Homo sapiens: one gene and its partners. The protein of the gene in region 2 purifies or fractionates together with the protein of the main gene of each other region. This does not show direct contact. Each region holds a gene or a part of one and is shown on either strand. Other genes may lie near its edges. The genes, in order: TSPYL6, HEATR1 and ALDH3A2.

The links.
Region 1: the proteins of HEATR1 (region 2) and TSPYL6 purify together in Homo sapiens (affinity purification with mass spectrometry; 2 studies listed by BioGRID and IntAct, with this or other methods). This does not show direct contact.
Region 3: the proteins of HEATR1 (region 2) and ALDH3A2 purify together in Homo sapiens (affinity purification with mass spectrometry; 2 studies listed by BioGRID and IntAct, with this or other methods). This does not show direct contact.

What each region holds. Positions count from the first base shown.
Region 1 is NC_000002.12:54,253,169-54,260,127, reverse strand, and holds TSPYL6 (testis-specific Y-encoded-like protein 6), read left to right. Parts: upstream 1-3,898; 5' UTR 3,899-3,976; coding exon 3,977-5,209; 3' UTR 5,210-6,950; downstream 6,951-6,959.
Region 2 is NC_000001.11:236,594,432-236,601,543, reverse strand, and holds part of HEATR1 (HEAT repeat-containing protein 1), read left to right. Parts: intron 1-1,919; coding exon 1,920-2,061; intron 2,062-3,564; coding exon 3,565-3,666; intron 3,667-4,567; coding exon 4,568-4,708; intron 4,709-5,499; coding exon 5,500-5,711; intron 5,712-5,870; coding exon 5,871-6,004; intron 6,005-7,112. UniProt on the Homo sapiens protein: Ribosome biogenesis factor; required for recruitment of Myc to nucleoli. Involved in nucleolar processing of pre-18S ribosomal RNA. Required for optimal pre-ribosomal RNA transcription by RNA polymerase I.
Region 3 is NC_000017.11:19,658,710-19,665,821, reverse strand, and holds part of ALDH3A2 (aldehyde dehydrogenase family 3 member A2), read right to left. Parts: intron 4,696-7,112; coding exon 4,554-4,695; intron 3,823-4,553; exon of another isoform or gene 3,732-3,822; intron 2,490-3,731; coding exon 2,323-2,489; intron 875-2,322; coding exon 775-874; intron 1-774.

The DNA of each region.
Region 1 (6,959 bases), on a different chromosome or scaffold from region 2:
GCCATGCTCCTAAAGCTGACATCTCCTTCTCCACTTAGGTACTAGATTCCACCTCCTCTTGTCTATTCCAGGACATCCCTCCAATAATGCTTCCTTCTGTCTCTTACATCATTAGTTTTATGCTCCCTACTGGATCATTCACATCAACCTGCTTCTTTACACATGCTTCATCTCCCATTTTAAAAACACGTTCTTTGATCCATTTCCCCACCAGCTATCATCCCATTTCTTTGAAACAAAACTTCTCAAAACAGTTGTATATACTCGCTGTTTTCACTTTTTCGCTTCCTGTTTTCTCTTAAACTTATTCCAGCCAAGCTATTATCCCACCACTCCACTGAAAGTAGCTTGACTACTCTTGTCATGATCCCATTTCTTTGTTTCTTTTTGGAGAAAAATTCCTCAAAAGAATTGTCAATATTCAATCTCCATTTCTTTTCTCCCTTTCCCTTTCAAACATATTTCAACCCCCACCACTCCACTGAAAGTGCTCTTTTTGAGTCACCAGTGACTCTTTGTTGTAAAATCCGACGGTCAATTCTCAGACCTCATACTAACTGACATGTGAGCACCCTGTGACACAGCTGAACACCTTCCTTTACACATTTGGCTTCAAGCACATTGCACTCTCTTGGTTTCCTTCCTACCCTGCTGGTCTCTCTTCAGTCTTCCTTGCTGTTTTTCCTCTTTTTCTTGACCTTATACTTTTGGAGTCTTCAGGGCCCAGCTTATCAGGACTCACTATCTTAGTGTTCTCATCCAACCCTTTGACTTTAAATTCCATGCATGCTGATTATCCCAAAATGTGAATAACTATCTCAGACCTCTCCTGAGCTCTAAACTCATTATGCCCACTTGGCATCTCAACTCTGGTGTCCAATAATCATCTCAAACAATATGTTAAAAAAGAGAGACAACTCTGATTTTCCTGCAAAGATCTTCCTCATTATAACCTTCACCATCTCTGCTTCCAGTAACTCCATCCTACCAGTTGCTCATGTCAAAATCATTGGAGTCATCCTTGACTTCTCTCTTTCTCTTACACCCCATGCTGGGAGGTGGGGCCTTTAAGAGGTGATCAGGTTGTTAAGATGGATTTATGTTTTTCTTGCAAGGCTGGATAACTTCTCATGGGAATGGATTAGTTTTTGAGAGAGTGGGTTGCTATAATGCAAGTCAGCCTCTCTTGTCCATTCTTTCCCAGGTGCTTGCTTGCTCTTCTGCTTTTTTGTCATGCTACTTCATAGCACAGCATATTGGACTTCTCAGCATCCAGAATTGTGAGTTAAATAAGCTTTTCTTTATAAATTACCCAGTCTCAGGTATTCAGTTACAGCAACAGAAAATGAACTAAGAGATCCCATAGCCAATTTACCATTAAATCAGGCTGACTCTACCATCATACTATGTCCACCATCCACCTCCATTGCTGCCACCTGGTCTGAGAAACATCTTTCACCTGGGTTACTGCAGTAGCCTCCCAAAAGATCCCCCTAAATCTACCATTGCCACCATACAGATTATTTTTCACCCAGGAGCCAGAGTGATTCACGCAAAACTTAAGTCAGATTTTGTGTCCTCTGCTCAAAATCCTGTAGTAATTTCCCATTTCACTAAGAATAAAAGCCAAATTTCTTACACTATCATACAAGACCCTACTTGATCTAGCCTCCCTCATTCACTGTGCTCCAGTCACGCTGGCCTCCTTGTTATTTCTTGAACATTCCAGACATGCTCCTGTCTTAGTGCCTCTGCTTAGCACTTCTCGTGCTGAAATGCTCTCCTCCAGGATTTCTACTAGCTGACTCCCTCAACTTCTTTGACTCTTTGCCAAAATCTCATATTTTCAATGAGGCTTCCTCTGACCACCCTATTTCATACTACAATCTCCTCCCCACTCCCTACCCCCAGGACTTTCAATCTCCTTGCTCTATTGTTTTTTCCATAGCACTTATAACTTTCTAATGTGCAATATTGGTTTCTTGTTATTATCTTTCTCCCCTGCTAAAATGTAAACCCCAAGAGGGAAGAAATCTTTGGTCTGTTCACCGTTATATCCAGAGGGCCTATAAGAGTACCAGGCACACAGTAGGTACCCAATAAACATTTGTTGAATGTTTAATAAATATTTGTTGAATGTTTAATAAATATAAAAATGGATTATGTGTTCCTTGAAGGTTTGGTAGCAGTCGCCTCAAAATCATTTGAACCTCATGCTATTTTTGTGGAAACATTTTTTTAAGCTACTGATTCCATTTGTTTATTGTCTCTAGGTCTATTTAGATTTTCTATTGCATTTCAGTCCGTGTTGATAAGTTATACATTTCTATGAAGCCATATATTTCATCTAAGTTTGAAAATGTATTGGCATAAAGCTGTCTAACATCCTGTCTTATATTTATTTAAACCATCAATGTGACTATAATTTTCTCTCCAAATATTGCTTATTTTCTCTCTCCTTTTATTATTAATCTTTGGTTAATGCTCTGTATTGTCTTACATAAATTTCTCCTGTTTATTATTACCTTTTCTCTATGTCCTTTGGCCTAATTCTATTGGTCTTTTATATATTTCTCAAATTATTTTTCATGATGAGTGATACAGCACTTGCCAATATTTCCAGTTTCCTCCTTCCAGGCTCAAGAGAAGATTACACCTCCCTGTCCTATTAAAGTTAGACAAGGCCAACTGACTAGCTGTAGCCAATGATTTATGTCACTTCTGACAGAAACATTTAAAAACCTATGCATGGGGAAAGAATTGTCTTTTCAATAAACAGTGCTGGGTCAATTAGATATTCATATGGAAAAAAAGAAATTGTGACCCCACTCATAAAAATCAATTCCAGATGGATGGCATATATAAATTTGAACAATCTTGGTGAGATAAGATTCCTCTTTTTTTCTTCTTTTTAAAAATAGAGATGGGGTCTTGCTGTGTTGCCCAGGCTGGTCTCCAACTCCTAGGCTCAACTGATCCTCCCGTCTCCGCCTCTCAAAGTGCTAGGATTACAGGTGTGAGGCACTGTGCCCAGGTGAGAGGTAAGATTTCTTAAACAGAGCAGAAAAACACTAAGGTAAAGGGGAAAATGACAAATTGGCACATATTAAGATGAAAAACTTTTGTTCTTCAAAAGGTACCATTAAGATGGTGAAAAAGTAGGCCAGGTACGGTTGCTCATGCCTGTAATCCCAGCACTTTGGGAGGCCAAGATGGGCGGATCACCTGAGGCCAGGAGTTCAGACCAGCCTGGCCAACATGGCAAAACCATGTCTTGACTAAAAATACAAAACAAAACAAAACAAAACAAACAAACAAAAAAACCGGGCATGGTGGTGGGCGCCTGTAATCCCGGCTACTTGGGAGGCTGAAGCAGGAGAATCGCTTGAACTTGGGAGGCGGCAGCTTCAGTGAGCTGAGATCATGCCATTGTACTCCAGCCTCGGCGACAGCGAAACTACGAGTCCAAAAGAAAAGTAACCCCACAGAGTGGGAGGAAATATTTGTAATACCTATACTGGAAGAGAAATATTTGTAATACCTATACTGGAAGAATGACTGACTAGTATCTAGCATGTACAAAGGCTTCCTACAAATCCATATGAAAAATAACGTCAGCCCAGTAGAGAAATAGGGAGAAGCCTCGGATACTGCACAAGAGAGAATATCCTAGTGGCCAACAAACACATGAGAAGGTTCTCAGCTCATTAGACTTTGGCTAAATGCAAATTAAAACCACCATGTAATATCATTACTCATCCAGCACGATGGCTAAAATAACAAAGACGTAAAGACACCACCACAGACTCGCGAGACTGAGGAGTGAGTGTCGCGAGACTGAGGGGTGGGTGTCGCGAGACTGAAGAGTGGGCGGCGCAAATGGGCGAGGTGTTTACTCGCCATTTTGTGTGAGGAACGTTGACGCTACCTACCTCTGGCCTGGCCTCTACCCACTGCTGCCCTGGCCGCTACCAACATGAGCCTCCCGGAGAGTCCTCACAGCCCCGCTACTCTCGACTATGCTCTGGAAGACCCGCACCAGGGCCAGAGGTCCCGAGAAAAGAGCAAGGCGACAGAGGTAATGGCAGATATGTTTGATGGCCGCTTGGAGCCAATCGTGTTCCCACCGCCCCGGCTTCCAGAGGAGGGGGTCGCGCCCCAGGATCCCGCAGATGGTGGCCATACTTTCCACATCTTGGTCGATGCGGGTCGCAGTCATGGAGCCATCAAAGCGGGGCAGGAAGTGACTCCACCACCCGCGGAGGGCCTAGAAGCGGCCTCTGCCTCGCTGACAACTGACGGCAGCCTCAAAAATGGCTTTCCGGGTGAAGAGACGCACGGCCTAGGTGGGGAGAAGGCTCTAGAAACCTGTGGGGCAGGGAGGTCGGAGTCTGAAGTGATTGCAGAGGGGAAGGCCGAGGACGTGAAGCCTGAGGAGTGTGCCATGTTCTCAGCCCCAGTGGATGAGAAGCCAGGAGGCGAAGAAATGGACGTGGCGGAAGAAAACAGAGCAATAGATGAGGTAAACAGGGAGGCAGGGCCTGGGCCCGGGCCCGGGCCCCTGAACGTGGGTCTCCACCTGAACCCCCTGGAGTCCATCCAGCTGGAACTGGACTCCGTGAATGCAGAGGCTGACAGGGCGCTCCTGCAGGTGGAGCGCAGGTTTGGGCAGATTCATGAATACTACCTGGAGCAGAGGAATGACATCATTCGCAATATCCCGGGCTTCTGGGTCACTGCTTTCCGCCACCACCCACAGCTGTCTGCCATGATTAGAGGCCAAGATGCCGAGATGTTAAGCTACTTAACCAATTTGGAAGTGAAGGAGCTCAGACACCCTAGGACAGGCTGCAAGTTTAAGTTCTTCTTTCAAAGAAACCCTTACTTCAGAAACAAGCTGATTGTAAAGGTGTATGAGGTCAGATCCTTCGGCCAAGTGGTGTCTTTTTCCACTCTAATCATGTGGCGCCGGGGCCATGGACCCCAGTCCTTCATTCATAGGAACCGACATGTCATCTGCAGCTTCTTCACCTGGTTTTCAGACCACAGCCTTCCAGAGTCCGACAGGATTGCTCAGATTATTAAAGAGGACCTCTGGTCAAATCCACTGCAGTACTACCTGTTGGGTGAAGACGCCCATAGAGCTAGACGTCGCCTGGTAAGGGAGCCAGTGGAGATCCCCAGGCCCTTTGGGTTCCAGTGTGGTTAACCTTTGCCTTTGGAATTACTCCTGCAGAAGGTTGCCTGCCACCACCAGCTGGACCTGAGCTTGGGCAACAGCATTAGGTATGCCCTTTACTTTTTTTGTTCTGACTTTCCTGTACCCTCTGTTTAAACTTTCCGTTCTCTCAACCTGAAGATTGAGACCTTGGTGGCTGTGCTGCTCCCCTTTCACCTGGTCGTCTTGCTATTCTGCATTAACATCACATGCTCCCAGCCGATGGGTCACATCCTTCTAAGCGAAGCGAATGATGCTGTAGGTTACACTGTATTTACCTTTGTTTGGACTCGGTTTGTTCCCAGGACCTCTGGTCTGGCTCCTCCTACTTGGATTTCTAGCTGTGTCTAAGAACCTATTCAGCTCACCCTGCTCTGCATCTGACAGTACAGGTGCATGGCCTGTGGACAATTGCTGGGCATTAATGAAGTCAAGGGAGAACAGCAGGGGGCAAGTTGGTCTGTGTGAATTATGGGACCCCATTACTTTTCCTGAGACTGGTCACCTATTGCTGCCTGCTACTGGCTATTCCCAAGTACTGCTACTTGGGCAGCTCCCTGCTGAGTGAACATATCCCAGACCATTGCCAGCTCCACTCTCTGGTTTCTAATAAACAGGGATCTCCAGAACACTGGTGGTGGACACAGCTTTCCTGTCAGCACACAAAAGACCTGTTCCTCTTCCAAAAGACCTCTCTTTACCACCACCACCCTCATCACTCAGAAACCCTACTGTTTGTTAGACAGGTGGTTGAGGGGACATGTCAGACCCTATCCTCATGGCAAGGTTAATATGTTGGTGTTCTTGACAAGTACCAGGCTTTCTCAGCCACAACCAGTGGATTCATTCAAAATCTAGGTACCTTTATTTGCCTCCCTTCCTGAACCTAATGAAGTGCCAGAGTGAGTGTACACTTTCTTTTCTCTCATCTCTCATAAATCTCTTCTGTCTTCCTTTAAAAAAAACAAAAGTAGTAGTTCAGAAACATCCGCAGAAGCAGGCTTTTTAGTTTCTTGGCTCTCTTTGTCATGTCCAGAGGCAGGCTGTTCTGTAAAATAGACTGCCAGACCTCTTATTGCCCATTCTCCTTTCTTCTCAGCCCCTCACCCCTCTTTAGCAATTCCTAGAGGGTTTAAAGGACTACAGAGCTGTATGGAATGAAAGGTGATTTCTAGTTCAGAGTGGATAGAAGAACTAAAGAGATTGTGATGGGTGCTCTAGGCAGGGAAAACTGAACAAAAAGGCAGAAATGATTCAGGGGAAAATCGGGCCTAGAATTTACACTGGGTTGACTAGTTATGATGGGAAGAGAAGTACTTTTTTTTAGTATGCACGTAGAAGAATAGAAGATGGTTGGAGTGTTAAATATGTTCCCTAGAGAAGGGTTCTTTGAAGAAACACTGCAATTTTGGGTGTTCTCTTTCTTGTTTGCATATGGCCTTACTTATGTGGAAGATTAATACTGTGTTATAATATTTTCTCTTTCTGTTTACTGGGAAGATTCAGCTGTACAGATTTTCTTTTACTTTCAAATAGAAATATTTGGAATAATATCAGTCTTTCTTTTTTGTACATTATGTGGATATGGATATTCATGGCAGTTTTCAGCCTGTTCTTGTTTCTGTTAAAACCGTATCTTTAACATTTTAATTTGAATAACTTGGTCTTATCTGATGCGGAAGACTGGAAACTATTGTGTTCATGGGTAAATAAACTACAAAATATTTATGGCTTTCATTGT
Region 2 (7,112 bases):
GGCATGAGCCACCACATCCAGTCCAACTTACATGTTTTAAAAGTAGATTTCTATTCCATTAATTGGAGACATGGCTTCAAGGCCAGCCTGGCCAGCATGGTAAAACCTGTCTGTGTGAAAAATACAAAAATTAGCTGGGCGCAGTGGCGAGCACTTGTAATTCTAGCTACTTGGGAGGCTGAGGCAGGAGAATTGCTTGAATCCAGGAGACAGATTTTGCAGTGAGCTGAGATCACGCCACTGCACTCCAGCCTGGGTAACAGGGAGACGCCGTATCAAAAAAAAAAAACAAAAAATGGAGACGTGGGGATAAACTAATTTTTTTTCAAGAAGCAAGTGAGTCATCAAGAAAACATGATTTTAACTTGGGTCTTCTGATTGTCAGAACATTAGGGCAATCAGACAAAGAATATTTAAAAGTCTGTAATATTTCCATCTGTTTTCTAGCACCTAACTTTACCCCCAAATAGATCATTAATGTAAGGAATACTTTTTGCATTTGATTTTTCATTTTATGTCTTCAGATAACTTATTTATTCAGCAAATACTAAGTTCAGTACATAGATAAGTAGGTTGCCGTTGATTACTGTTTTGAAATAAATGCCATAATAAAGGATTAAGCAGAGTTTTGTGGATATAGTTCTGCCTGGAATAGTTGAAGAAAGCTTCATGGAAAAAGTAACCGCTAAAACCGTATGTCAAACTAAGAGGCTGGGTTCAGTGGCTCACGCCTGTAATCCCAGCACTTTGAGAGGCTGAGGCAGGCCAGTCACTTGAGATCAGGAGTTTGAGACGAGCCTGACCAACATGGTGAATCCCTGTCTCTACTAGAAATACAAAAAAAAATTAGCTGGGTGTGGTGCTGTGCACCTGTAATTCCAGCTACTTGGGAGGCTAGGGCATGAGAATCGCTTGAACTTGGGAGGCGAAGGTTGCAGTGAGCTGAGATCACACCACTGCACTCCAGCCTGGGTGACCAAGTAGACTCTGGAAAAAAAAAAAAATCTAATAAAAGGCAATGTATGGTACTGTTTAAAAAAAGTACACGATGTAAAAGGATAGGAGAGTTTTCACAGAAGAGGGATCAGTTGGCAGAATTAGAAAAAACATCTTAGCCAGGCATGGTGGCTCACACCTGTAGTCCTAGCACTTTGGGAGGCTGAGGCAGGTAGATTGCCTGAGCTCAGGAGTTGGAGACCAGCCTGGGCAACATGGTGAAACCCCATCTCTACTAAAGTAAAAAAAAAAAATTAGCTGGGCATGGTGGTATGAGTTTGTAGTCCCAGCTACTTGGGAGGCGGAGGCAGGAGAATCTTTTAAACTTGGAGGTGGAGGTTGCAGTGAGCCGAGATTGTGCCACTGCACTCCAGCCTGGGCAACAGCAAGACTCCCTCTCAAAAAAAAAAAAAAAAAAAAAAAAAAAAATGTTGACAGACCAGCCTGGGCAACACAGGGAGACCTAGTCTCTACACAGAAATAAAAAATTAGCCAGCTGTGATGGTGCTCCCCTGTGGTCCCAGCTACTCAGGAGACCTAGGTGGGAGGATCATTTGAGCCTGGGAGGTTGAGGCTGCAGTGACCCGTGATCGTGCCACTGCACTCCAGCCTGAGTGGCAGAGCAAGACTCTATTCAAAAAATTAAATAAAAATTGTAAAGCTGAGAGAAAGTTAATGGGATGTATATTTTGATGTAGAATATTCAAAGATATTGCATAGGAATTGGCTGGACCATGTTGAGGGATATGTGAATGCAAAATTGGGGACTTTTTAAATGCTCTGTATCTTATAATTTTGTGATTTTTACTGCTACTCGTTCTAGGTTGTTTTAGCTTATTAATAATACAGTTTGGGCATGTGAGGAAATAGGTGCTTATTATTAAGTTTTGTGTTCAGTTGGACTGTTTGCTTTTTTTCCCCAGGTTCCATATACATCTCTATAATCAAGATAGCCTCATTGCTTGTGTTCTGCCATACCACGAGACAAGAATATTTGTGCGAGTCATACAGCTTCTAAAAATTAATAATTCAAAGCACAGATGGTTCTGGTTGTTGCCAGTTAAGGTATAATTGCTGAATGACATATGTCTGTAATCATTACAGATCTTGATTAAGGGATTTAATTAGGAAAAAATAAGTCATTGCTCCTGGGGATAGTCCAGATAACTACCTCCATCATTTTTATTTCCTGACTTCCAATTGAAACTATTATTAATGTTAATAATATTTAGCTTTTATTTAGTATCTGACATCAGGCTAGGCAATGTACATTATATTATCTTGGATTATCACAAAACTTCATTTTTACAGATGAGGACAGGCTACTTGCCAAAGTTCACATAACTATAAAGTGGCAGAGTTGAGATTTGAACCCAAATCTGATTCCAGAGTCTGTGCCTTTGTATCGTACCATGCCGTTTGGCATTTTAAATTTGGAACTGAGAACTTAAAAAAAAGTTGAAGGTGAAGAAAGGCAGAAAATACTTACAAAAATTAAAAGGATAAGGATAACTTCAGGGGTTTCAAGAATTTACTAAAGTTGTGAGGAAGATGCTAGGAGTTAATTTACAGACTAAGAAAAGGATGCTTGTATAACAGGAAGGGTCTGGGTAAGAAAAGACAGCATGCTATTGTAGGAAAACCAACTGACTAACCGTTAGCACTTTGTTTGCAACATATGGTGGAGGAAAGTAGATGTATGTTGTTAGCAGGAACTTGACTGCATGTTGGGCATGGTGATCCAGGGTAGGGGGGGAGGCAAATGGGGATGAAGGTAAGCTAACAGATCACGAGGCTGTGCACATTAGGCTGATGATGGTAGTGGGGTCAGTGTTCAGAATTAGTAAGATAGGAGTAATGAGGACTTTTTAATTAGAAGGAGAATTTAAGAATCTGAACGTAAAGCACTTGAACTAAAGAATGTTGGAGAAGGCCAGCCTTTGATAAAGCTCATTAACTGCTCTTCCCAACATTCACTCTGCCCATAGCATCAAAATTATTCTTCCTCTAATCTACCTTGGATCTTGCTGCTCCCTAGGCACTCTTATTGCAGGTAGCCAAACTCCACTCACCTACTAAAGTTCACTTAAAATTCTCCTTTCATTTATTTAATCAGTATTTATGGAGCATCTATTACATACCATGTACAACGCTAGATGGTGGGAATAGTGGTATAAGTTGTGCAGTTTCCTAGTCTATTTCTGTTCTTAGTGTTATTGTAAAGCAATGACAGAAGCGTATCATAGTGGCTCAGAAACCAAATCGAACCAGTAAAGTTACTAAGAATCTAGAGAATCCAGATTTTGATAAATACCTTTCAAAATGTGACATACGATAAGCAAACATCTTTCACTAAATACCTCTGCCCTCATTGCTGACCTTCTCTTTTGAATTTCTAAGTTTACATGATTTTATGTGTTAATTTCATCACCACCACCAGTTATAAGGAGAGATTATATTTTTTATTTATGAATTGTAGCAGTATGAAGACATTACTAGGGTAAATGCTTTAAAATAAGGATCAGTTGATGAATGTTGCTAGTAGTTTGTTCTTTCCATCAATAACAGCAATCTGGAGTGCCGTTAGCTAAAGGAACTTTGATTACCCACTGCTACAAAGATCTTGGATTCATGGATTTCATTTGCAGTTTGGTGACAAAATCTGTGAAGGTGAGCAGTCTGTTTCATGAGTATATAATTTTATGAAAAGATTGCTTGCTTTGAATGAAGAAAACATACTAAAACATTCCCTAATAACAATGATACTTTGGATAAATTTATTTTGTTAAATGGTCTGGTGTTTTGAAGCAGGAGCAGTTTGAGAGTCCGTATCTTTTTTTTTTTTTTTAAGAATCAGTCTTTTATCACCAAAGGTGTTTTTCTACAAAAATAAATGTCTATTCCTTGCCAGATTCTAGTTACAGTGACTATTCAAAGAGAGTGTCTAGAAATGTCGGGAATATTCAACCTGGGAAAGCTGTTTAAAAAATTTTAAGGCCAGGTGCGGTGGCTCACGCCTGTAATCCCAACACTTTGGGAGGCCAAGGCAGGCGGATCACTTGAAGTCAGGAGTTTGAGACCAGCCTGGCCAACATGGTGAAACACCGTCTCTACTAAAAATACGAAAATAAACTGGGCATGGTGGGGCATGCCTGTAATTCCAGCTGCTCGGGAGGCTGAGGCAGGAAAATCGCTTGAACCTGGGAGGCGGAGGTTGCAGTGACCCAAGATCATGCCACTGTACTGCAACCTGGGCGACAGAGACTCCATCTCAAAAAAAAAAAAAAAAAATTTTTTTTTAAATAAAAATGTTAGGAATATCATTAGGCAGTTAATTGTTGTCACATTGTGTATTCATTGTTGCATATGGTAATTCAGGAGAGCTGTAAATATTTATTTGGCCTTTCACTTTTTTTTTTTTTGGAGACATGGACTTGCTTTGTCGCCCAGGCTAGAGTACAGTGGTGCCATCATAGTTCATTGAAATCTCAGCCTTGAACTCCTGGCCTCAAGCAATCCTTCTACCTCCCTTTCACTGTTAAATGTGTTTTGTTTGTGTTCCTTGTTTCAGGTTTTTGCTGAGTACCCGGGCAGCTCAGCTCAGTTGAGGGTGCTCTTGGCTTTCTATGCTTCTACCATAGTGTCGGCGCTGGTAGCTGCAGAGGACGTATCAGACAATATCATCGCCAAACTATTTCCCTATATCCAAAAGGTTGGCACTGCTGATGTGTTAAGTAGATTATTTTGTACTTAAAGGAATTTTCTTGCTTTCGAAAGTTTTTTTAGATTTAAGTGTTTTTAAATTGACAGTTTATTTCAGATGATAGCTGAGATTTAGCCTTTAGGTTGAAAATATGACACTTTTTTATTAGAAACTCACTGGCCTGGGACCTTAATTAGGACTCTTAAGAATAAATATTGGCTGTCTGGTCCTGCGGCCATCTCCTAGATTGATTTCCATAGCAGTCTTTGTACCTCACTGGAAGGAGGACGGAGCAGACAGTCTCTTTGAGGCGTAAGCAACCTCTCAGTATTCTTTGTGCACTGGCTCCTGCCTCTCAGCGTTTCTCCTTCCCAAGTGCCTTCTTGCCTGCTGCCTTCCCAGGTGCCCTGTGGAGGTACTGCTTTCACTTCCCACCAGTGTCCCAACTTGTGACCTTTCATCAGACTTGTTTCTTCCATTAGTGATCTGATTGAGGTCTCCCTACTATAAGTAGGATTTTATGTATAAAAGAAGAGCTTACTGGCTCCTGTCAGGACATGTGGTAGATGTTTGAGTTGGGAAATTTTCTGAGATCCTTTGTCTCGTTCAACAGACTTGTCTCATCTCTGTATCCACTCTGAAAAAGGGGTCAGCTCCTTTATTGTTTATGTCTGAAGAGTGATTGACTATGCATTAGGTTGTATTAATCTCTATGACATTTCTAATTTGTCAGATTAACATTTAAAGTAGCAGAAAATAATATGGTTTATCATTTTTCCTTATATTTAAAAAATATTTAGGGATTGAAATCATCTTTACCAGATTACAGAGCTGCAACATACATGATAATATGTCAGATTTCTGTGAAAGTGACCATGGAAAATACCTTTGTGAATTCATTGGCATCACAGATCATCAAAACATTGACCAAGATTCCCTCTTTGATCAAGGATGGGTTAAGTTGCTTGATAGTGCTCCTGCAGAGACAGAAGCCAGAGAGCCTTGGGAAAAAGTATGTACAATTGAATTGAGAAATGGTGCTAGTCAGAGGTGAATAAAATTATTTTGAATAATTTTTTTTTGTAAGATAAGTGATTATATATTTTCTTATATTGTTACTCATTGTCTAACTTGTAAAGTCAACACGATATGTACTTTTGCTTCTTCAAAGGCCATTCCCTCACTTATGTAATGTTCCTGATCTTATTACAATACTTCATGGGATTTCTGAAACTTACGATGTCAGTCCTCTTCTGCATTACATGCTTCCCCATCTGGTCGTCTCCATCATTCATCATGTTACAGGTGTGTGGTTTTATATTTTTTGTCCAGAAATTTTCTAAGATTTGATCTTAAAATAGTAACCATATCCTGGTTAACAGCTTCAAAATATTTAAAATTTCTGTTTTCCAGTTGTTCTTGTGTAACTTGTCTATTTCTTAAGTGAGAAACATCTGGGGTGGGGAGCAGGTTGGTTGAAGAAAGATCATTGTTAATTGAGTAATTTCTTAGAATTTTACTTTTTTTAAGATCTGTGTTCTTAAATACTTAAATAGTCTCTACATGAAAAAGACTGGAATACTTTTAAAATTTATTACTGAGTAAACCTTTGCCTTCTCATTTAGGTATTTAATGAACTTTAGTGATTCATTTATAATGAATATCTCATCCAGTTGCCAAAAAAGTTTTTTCCCTAGAGTAATTAAAAATATAAGACCAAGAAAATTTTTATACATAAAAATCCAAATTATGAAACAAAGCAAAAAGCAAAAAGTAATAATTAGAGGGCCAGGTGGCTCAAACCTATAATTCTAGCACTTTGAGAAACTGAGATGGGCAGATCATGGCAAAACCCCGTCTCTACAAAAATATACAAAAATTAACCGGGCATGGTGACATGCAACTGTGGTCCCAGCTGCTCGGGAGACTGAGGTGGGAGGATCACCTGAGTCCAGGGAGTTCGAGGCTACAGGGAACTGTGTTTGTGCCACTGCAGTTCAGCCTGGGCGACAGAGTGAGACCCTATCTCAAAAATAATAATAATAATTAGAAAGTGATTATTTGCATTATGTCTTTTAATAAATACAGAAAGGCTAGGAAGAAACATTTGGTTCTGTTGCTACTTGGAGAATACTAAGAAAGACTTCTCTAAACTTATGTCAGTCTACTGAAAAATGAGGTTTTTGTAACCAAATCTTGGTTTGAACATGCATTTTAGAAAAGTGACTAGCAAAATGAAAATGTATTCTTCCTATTCTGAAGGTAATGAGTAATGTCCCAGTCTTTGAAAGCAAGGGCTAAGATCAGATTCATATGTTTATTATAAATCTGAAATAGATGACAGCTTTTGGTTCAGTAAGGGGGTGGGTACTGAGATAAAAGTTTAACCTCTTTTCAGAGATAGTTGATTGGC
Region 3 (7,112 bases), on a different chromosome or scaffold from region 2:
GGTTTTTGTTATGAGAATGTTTACATATCGGCTATTTTGTAATAGCTCTAGTAGAGAGTAGAAAAGCCCACCTAGCCTAGGTCCCAAAGGAGAAATAAAAAGCTGAGTCAGTCATCTCACATGTGGGAGAGGCAGGCAGGTCATGTTCTAAAGGGAAAAGCAAGGATCAGGCTATGTCCACAAAGCTTCACTTGGAATGAATTTCTTTCTGCCCATCCTCTCTAGAACAGGGGGAGTCCCGTTTTACTCAAATCACAAAACAATTCAAGGAGAGGCTGCTCCTCCCAACAAAGGGCTGGGGAACAATGCAGGTAAGAACTGAGCAGAAAACAAAGGCACATTAGAAAACCCCTCTACCTTCTGTCCCTGGTATTCCGAACCTTTCATTTGCTACTTCATTAAACACACACACCACACACACACACACACACACACACACACACACGAAGAGAGATCTTCTTAATTAATTTGAGACCTGATTCTTGGTTCCCAAATCTCCTAAATGTGGCAGGATAACAAAATCAACGAAGTGAACAAAGCTGTGGTCAGTCAGTGCTGCTGACAGAAAGAGAGTGACAAGACATTTGCCCTATGCTGGAGGGGTGGGTGGGGAAGCAGGAAAACCAGTCAACTGGGTGACCAGGAAAAGGTCTCCCTCAGGAGAGGACAATCAGGGTACGCAACAGCTGGCTATTTCAGCAGCCCATACAATCCACTCATGAAATGGTGGTGCTTTTGAAATATCTACTACAAGCAGGAGAAAATAAGACTCACCCACTCCTCCAAATGGGAAAGAGTTGAGCGTGAAGTGCATAATGACGTCATTGCCTGTGACACCTCCACTGGATGTCTCATCAATCATCCGTTTGATGAGCTGAGGACAGACCAAAGGTGTCCAGGTCAGTGAAGTTGCCCCTTAGGGAACACTCATGGCCCCACCACACAGAGGGCTGTGTGCTCAGTTATGTGCTCAAAGCATGCACATTCTGGCTTTGTGTCAGTGAAAATTCTCGAGTTTGGGGACACCATGCCAGATAGACAAACAATCTCAACTGGTTAATTTAGCAAAGTGACTGATACCCAACTTCTCAGACACACATCTAGTGCACAAAAGGAGGCAGCTCCAAACCTCTGGGCCTACTCAGCCACAACCTGGAGTTGTACTCCCCAACACAGCAGCAAAAGACTCTTTAAAAGGGGACAGCTTAGACTATATTCCAGCTTTAAAAACTGTTATTATTTCTTTCTTATCTCTGCTTTAAATTATAACACATGATTAATAGGTATTATTTAGTCTTTATGAAATGTAAAAATATTTAAGACTTTAGATTTAGCATCCTATTTTTTAAGAAATAAATGGTTGTTTGGCCTAAGGCTCAGAAAAGCACAAGAACACTTGACTAGTAAACGTCATTTACCCTTGGGTGCCAGCAAGCCCTTGACAATTGTTCATGGCAAACGTCAAGTCTGGACTATAGTGACCTCGGGTGACCCACTGCTGGGAAGTGCTCCACACCTGACTTATACCCTGGCCAGCCTACTTTCGGCTTCAGGGTTCCTTCCTGCCCACATTATCCATGGTTTTAAATGTCAAACCATTGTTTTGTTAATAACCCAGTCTTTACTGAGCCCCACACATTTGGTCTCACTTCAAATACCTGTAGCTATCTGTATCTCAATAGTCTCACAAGCTCCAAAAGCTGTCACATGACTATCTATACATTACCATCAGAAGCTCTCCAGAAAACATTTGGGCCATGGTCTCTTAGTAGCGGCTGGTCACCTAGTGACATGAATGAGTGAGCCATGCAGAAAGTGGCAGAACTGCTCAACCAGGTGATGCAGTTCCACCACTCTAACAAGAAGCTAGCGTCATGTTAGAAACTAAAATCCATCATATCACAACCATTTATGTGACAGTGTCGGGGTCTTTGTCCCACACAGTGGGTGTGAATGCCATTTTGTGCAGGCTGTTATTCAGCAATGCCCTGTGGATTAACATCAGAAAAGCATTTAATGCTGGCACATATAAGTCTTCCAATTATACAGGAGATGTTTGTGAATCAAAAACCTTGTGACACTCAACCCTGCAGACTCAGATCTAACCCGAGGGAGGAGGGGAATGGATGCTGTGATAACCCCAGAGTCTCATTAACCAAGACAGCAACCTCGGAACACAACCTCACTTAGTGGATGGACTCTGACATGACACAAAAGAAACCATCATTGTTTCACATTGTTTTTTGCATTGTTTTACAGCAAAGAAGGAACATGACTCTTGACAGTTGCTTATGCTAACTAGCTGTTCTCTCTAAAGCTTACCTTATGGTTATGCGAAAATACATAAAGAGCCAGAGGCTTTTCACGTTCATTTATGAAATTTATGGCCTCATCTACATTTTTCACAGGCACTATTGGAAGAATTGGTCCAAAAATTTCTTCTTGCATCACCTTGGTTTTAGGATCAACATCGGTAAGTACTGTTGGGGCTAAAAAGAAAATAAACAAAATGAAAATGCTTATTAGACAAAAATGCACAACTCTCATATTACATCTCTTTCATTGGGTCACTTATCCATGCCTTTCCCTCTCCCACCCAAGTCATATCTATTGAAAAATCCTGAGCACGTGGATGAACTGTGCACATACTCAATGTCTCCAAAGCCTGTGAATCACAACCCTGCGGATACTTGTGCAAACCAAGGGAACGATACACACTCAAATATATCTTTTTCACATTGAACCCTGTTCACAGCCATGCATGTATTTAACTGTAGATTATACTTAACATTTTTCTGTGGACAGGTTTTTTTTTTGAGATGGAGTTTCGCCCTTGTTGCCCAGGCTGGAGTGCAATGGTGCCATCTCGGCTCACTGCAACCTCCGCCTCTGGAGTTCAAGTGATTCTCCTGTCTCAGCCTCCCGAGTAGCTGGGATTACAGGCATGCACCACCACGCCCGGCTAGTTTTGTATTTTTAGTAGAGATGAGGTTTCTCCATGTTGGGTCAGGCTGGTCTCGAATGGACAGGTCTTTCTAGGAGCAAAGACAGCTCCTCTGTGAATCAAATCAATACTATTTTTCTTAACTCGAGTGCTTTCATATATATGATCTCATTAACCTTTATTATAACTCTGTTAGACAGATTAAGAAAACAGACTTAAATGGTCAAAATTCCCTAAACCTTAGTCCACTGTTCCATCTACCATGGGGAAGAGGCACAAGAAAGGAGGGTGAAACAGATGCTGGGGAGGCTAGACAAAGTGTCCCAGCATCTGCTGCCAATGTAAGTCACCAACTAGCAGTACTCCAAAAGATGCTGTAAGTAAGAAACTGGCTCGTCAACCAAAAGAGAAGTCATCTGACAATAACAAGTTGGCACTTTTCCTTTACCCCCAGTTTCTAATAGGTTATCTTGGCAATGTGGCTGGGGACAGCTTCTTGCAGCACCACTTCCAGGGGGTATATAAACTGCCACTCCAAATCCATTGCCCACATCTTCCTCAGGTCAGAGAAACAATTTGGGCTGAGTGTCTACTTCCTCTGCATAGCCATGCTCAGGTAAGATGATCCCAGCTCGAAGTCAGGGGAAAGTCCTAATTAGTCTATAAGCTAATCAGGATAGCCCCTTCCTCTTACCATTCATTAGCCTAGAAATAGGCAATGTGGACATGCTGAGGATGGGAGAACAGAGAGGTGAAACAAGTAGAGTCTGTTTTCTCTTTTTTCTACAGATGTATTCCCCAATTCAATCTGGGCTGCCACCAAGAGAGATAGAAGGCACAAGGATTGTTTTCTTTTGCATCCTAGTACAAAGAATCAGGGTTTTTTGATGGTACCACGGGGCCACTGAATTATCTAGCTCAGGAGAACCTCGGGACTGCTAATTATAAGAGAATCAATTCTGCTTATTATTTCATTTTTAAGTTTTTTTTTTTAAAGTTGATTTTTTTTTTTTTGGTGACTTATAGCATCTTATCTGATAAAGGGGATAAGTAAAGCTAGGTGGTGCAGCTTCTTTGCCAGCAAAATGTGTCTAATTTTTCTGTCACCTTATATGTTACTGTAGAAAAATGTGCTTAACATTCAAAGTAATACATATTCAAGGCAAAGAAGAAAAAGCACAAAGAAGGTACACAAATAATAAGGTCAAGCATGATGGACCAAAACATTATTTCTGGAATGGTACCGTCACTGGTTAATTGTGGAATAGTGGCCAAGCTATTTCCTTCTTTGTGCTGTTTTCCCATCCACAAACTACAGATAATTACATCAAGTTCTATTCTGCTTCTCAGGATTGTTAGGAGGAAAAAAGGAGTTATGTGTAAATATGAACAACTGGAGCAACGCTGGTGGCATCATTCAATACACAGAAACACAGACATTTTAAATAGTTTATAACAAAAGCTACAGGTACAGTATACCAGAAAGCAGGATTTAGTACTTTAACAATTAAATGCTATATATTTAATAGTTTATCTAGTGTTAATAAGTAGTGTCAGCAAAAACTGCCAAATTGCCATCTTCCCATAGGAAAAGGAGAATTTCCATTACCTATGTAGCGTGTGGCCTCATCAGTCTCCCCACCAAAAGCTATCTTTTGTCCTTCAAGCAAACTTAGTATCCTCTTAAAATGACGAAGATTGATGATCCTTTCATAATCAGGAGACTCTTTTATATTTTCTCCATAAAATTCCTATTTAAAACAACAGGAGTATATAAATGTCACAAAGACCCACAATTCAATTTCAGTAAGTACAAAATCCAGCCATGCCCCAAAATCAATCTGGTTTTATATCCTCACAGAATCTAACACCCCACCCCTCAAGTAATTTAACAGTAGTATGATAGTAGCAAGTTTCAGCTTTTTGGCAGGTCGAGGACCAGAAAATAAAGCATGCACACACACAGAGATCTGTCATTGTCCATAGTTCCAAAGGTTCTTATGGATCTCTTAGAGTCCACCCACAGGCCTTCACCTCCTGGGGCTGACAGTGGGAGCAGGCTGGGGAAAGAAGTCTTGCTCTGCATCAGAGTTGCCTATTTGTTAGCACATTGGCTGTGCCTGCTTTCCCCCTACAGTAAGTTCGGTAGTTACAGCAGAGACCCTAACATCTGCAAAGCCTGAAATATTTACCATCTAGCCCTTTACAGAAACCATTTGCCAATCTTTGCTCCACTTTGTTGTTTTGGTCTTCTTTGAACTGGTATTTCCACCACTTACACATGATGGTGAAACCACCCGAAGGATCAAAATACAGCTTTGGTAAATTACCAAGGTAAAAGAACGTCAATAATCATACAATCAATATTTACTTAGTAAAACAAACAAAATTACTGAATTGCTGCATCACTTCAAAGCCTTGTGAGAGTTCCCAATTTCATCCCAAATCAAAATGAACATTGTTCATCCAACCTCTACCAAGAGCAATTCTCAAGTCTGGGTGGTCGGAATCACTGGTGCAGCTTGCTAAAATGCATGTGCCTGGGCTCTGACTCGAGAGTCACCAACAGTAGTTTTCAATGCTGAATGCATCATAGAATCACCTGGAGGCCTCAGACGAGCTGAATCTTTGGAGGGTAAGGCTTGCAAACTTGTTTTTAAATGGCTCACTAGGGTAACATGTAGCTTGAGAACCACTGTGTTAAGAGTATAAATGCCTCAAAGGGAGGCAGAGGCCCTTATTCCTTTGAAATTGAATTCATCACCACACTCAACTAAGCATTCTCCAATTCCCAAATATTTTCAATCTCACAAGTATCTTTAACCACTCTCTCTTCCCACATACCCTGAATCTGGGCAACTCTCCCTTCATGTGCTCATCTGGATCCATTTTTAGTCCTATGACTAAAAATGATAGTCCAATTTCCATGTCAAGACCCTAGCACCTCATCCCCCAAGTTACTCTGCCTGGAACACATAGTGAACTATTGTCCTGAACTTCCTGGTACATAATTTTCTCTTTTTTTTTTTTTTTTGAGACAGGGTCTCACTCTGTCACCCAGGCTGGAGTCCAGTGGCACATTCTTGGCTCACTGCAGCCTCCGCCTCCCAGGAGGATCAAGCGATCCTCCTACCTCAGCCTGCCAAGTAGCTGGGACCACACGTACACGCCGGTACACCTGAATTTTTGTATTTCTTGTAGCGACAAGATTTTGCTACGTTGCCCAGCTGGTCTTGAATTCCTGGCCTCAAGTGATCTGTCTGCCTTGGCCTTCCAAAGTGCTGGGATTACAGGAGTGAGCCACTGTGCCCAGCCAATTTTCTCTTTTTTTGTTTTTTTGAGACAGAGTCTTATGCTGTCACTCAGGCTGGAGCACAGTGATGCAATAATGGCTCATTGCAGCCTTGAACTCCTGGGCTCAAGTGATCCTTCTGGCTTCAGCCTCCTGAGTAGCTGGGACTACAGGCATGTGCCACCATACCCAGCTAACCTTTTTTTCTTTTGTAGACACAGGGTCTCATTATGTTGACCAGGCTGGTTTTGAACTCCTGGGCTCAAGCGATCTTCCCACCTTAGCCTCCCAAAGTGCTCGGATTACAGGAGTGAACCACCACAACGGCGACAATTTTCATATCTTTTTTTCTTTTGAGATAAAATCTCATTCCGTTACCCAGGCTGGAGTGCAGTAGCATGATCTTGGCTCACTGCAAGCTCCACCTCCCGGGTTCAAGCAATTCTTGTGCCTCAGCCTCCCAAGTAGCTAGAATTATAGGTGCGTGCCACCATGCCCGGCTAATTTTTGTAATTTTAGTAGAGATGGGTTTTGCCATGTTGGCCAAACTGGTCTCTAACTCCTCACCTCAAGTGATCAACCTGTCTTGGCCTCCCAAAGTGCTGGGATTACAGGCGTGAGCCACCATGTCTGGCCAACAATTTTCATTTTCAGATCACATGCATTACTCTTTGGTGTTTTTGATCCTTCCTTTTAGTGCTCAATTAACATCTGTCGAGTAAACAGTGACTGCTCCAATAATTTCTTTCATCTGAGGGGTTAATGATCCTCACCCACTGCTGAACTCAGTCACACTGGTCATTTGGTCATCCCATTCTTCTTTTTTTTTTTTTTTTTAAAGACAGAGTCTTGCTCTGTCGCCCAGGCTGGAGTGCA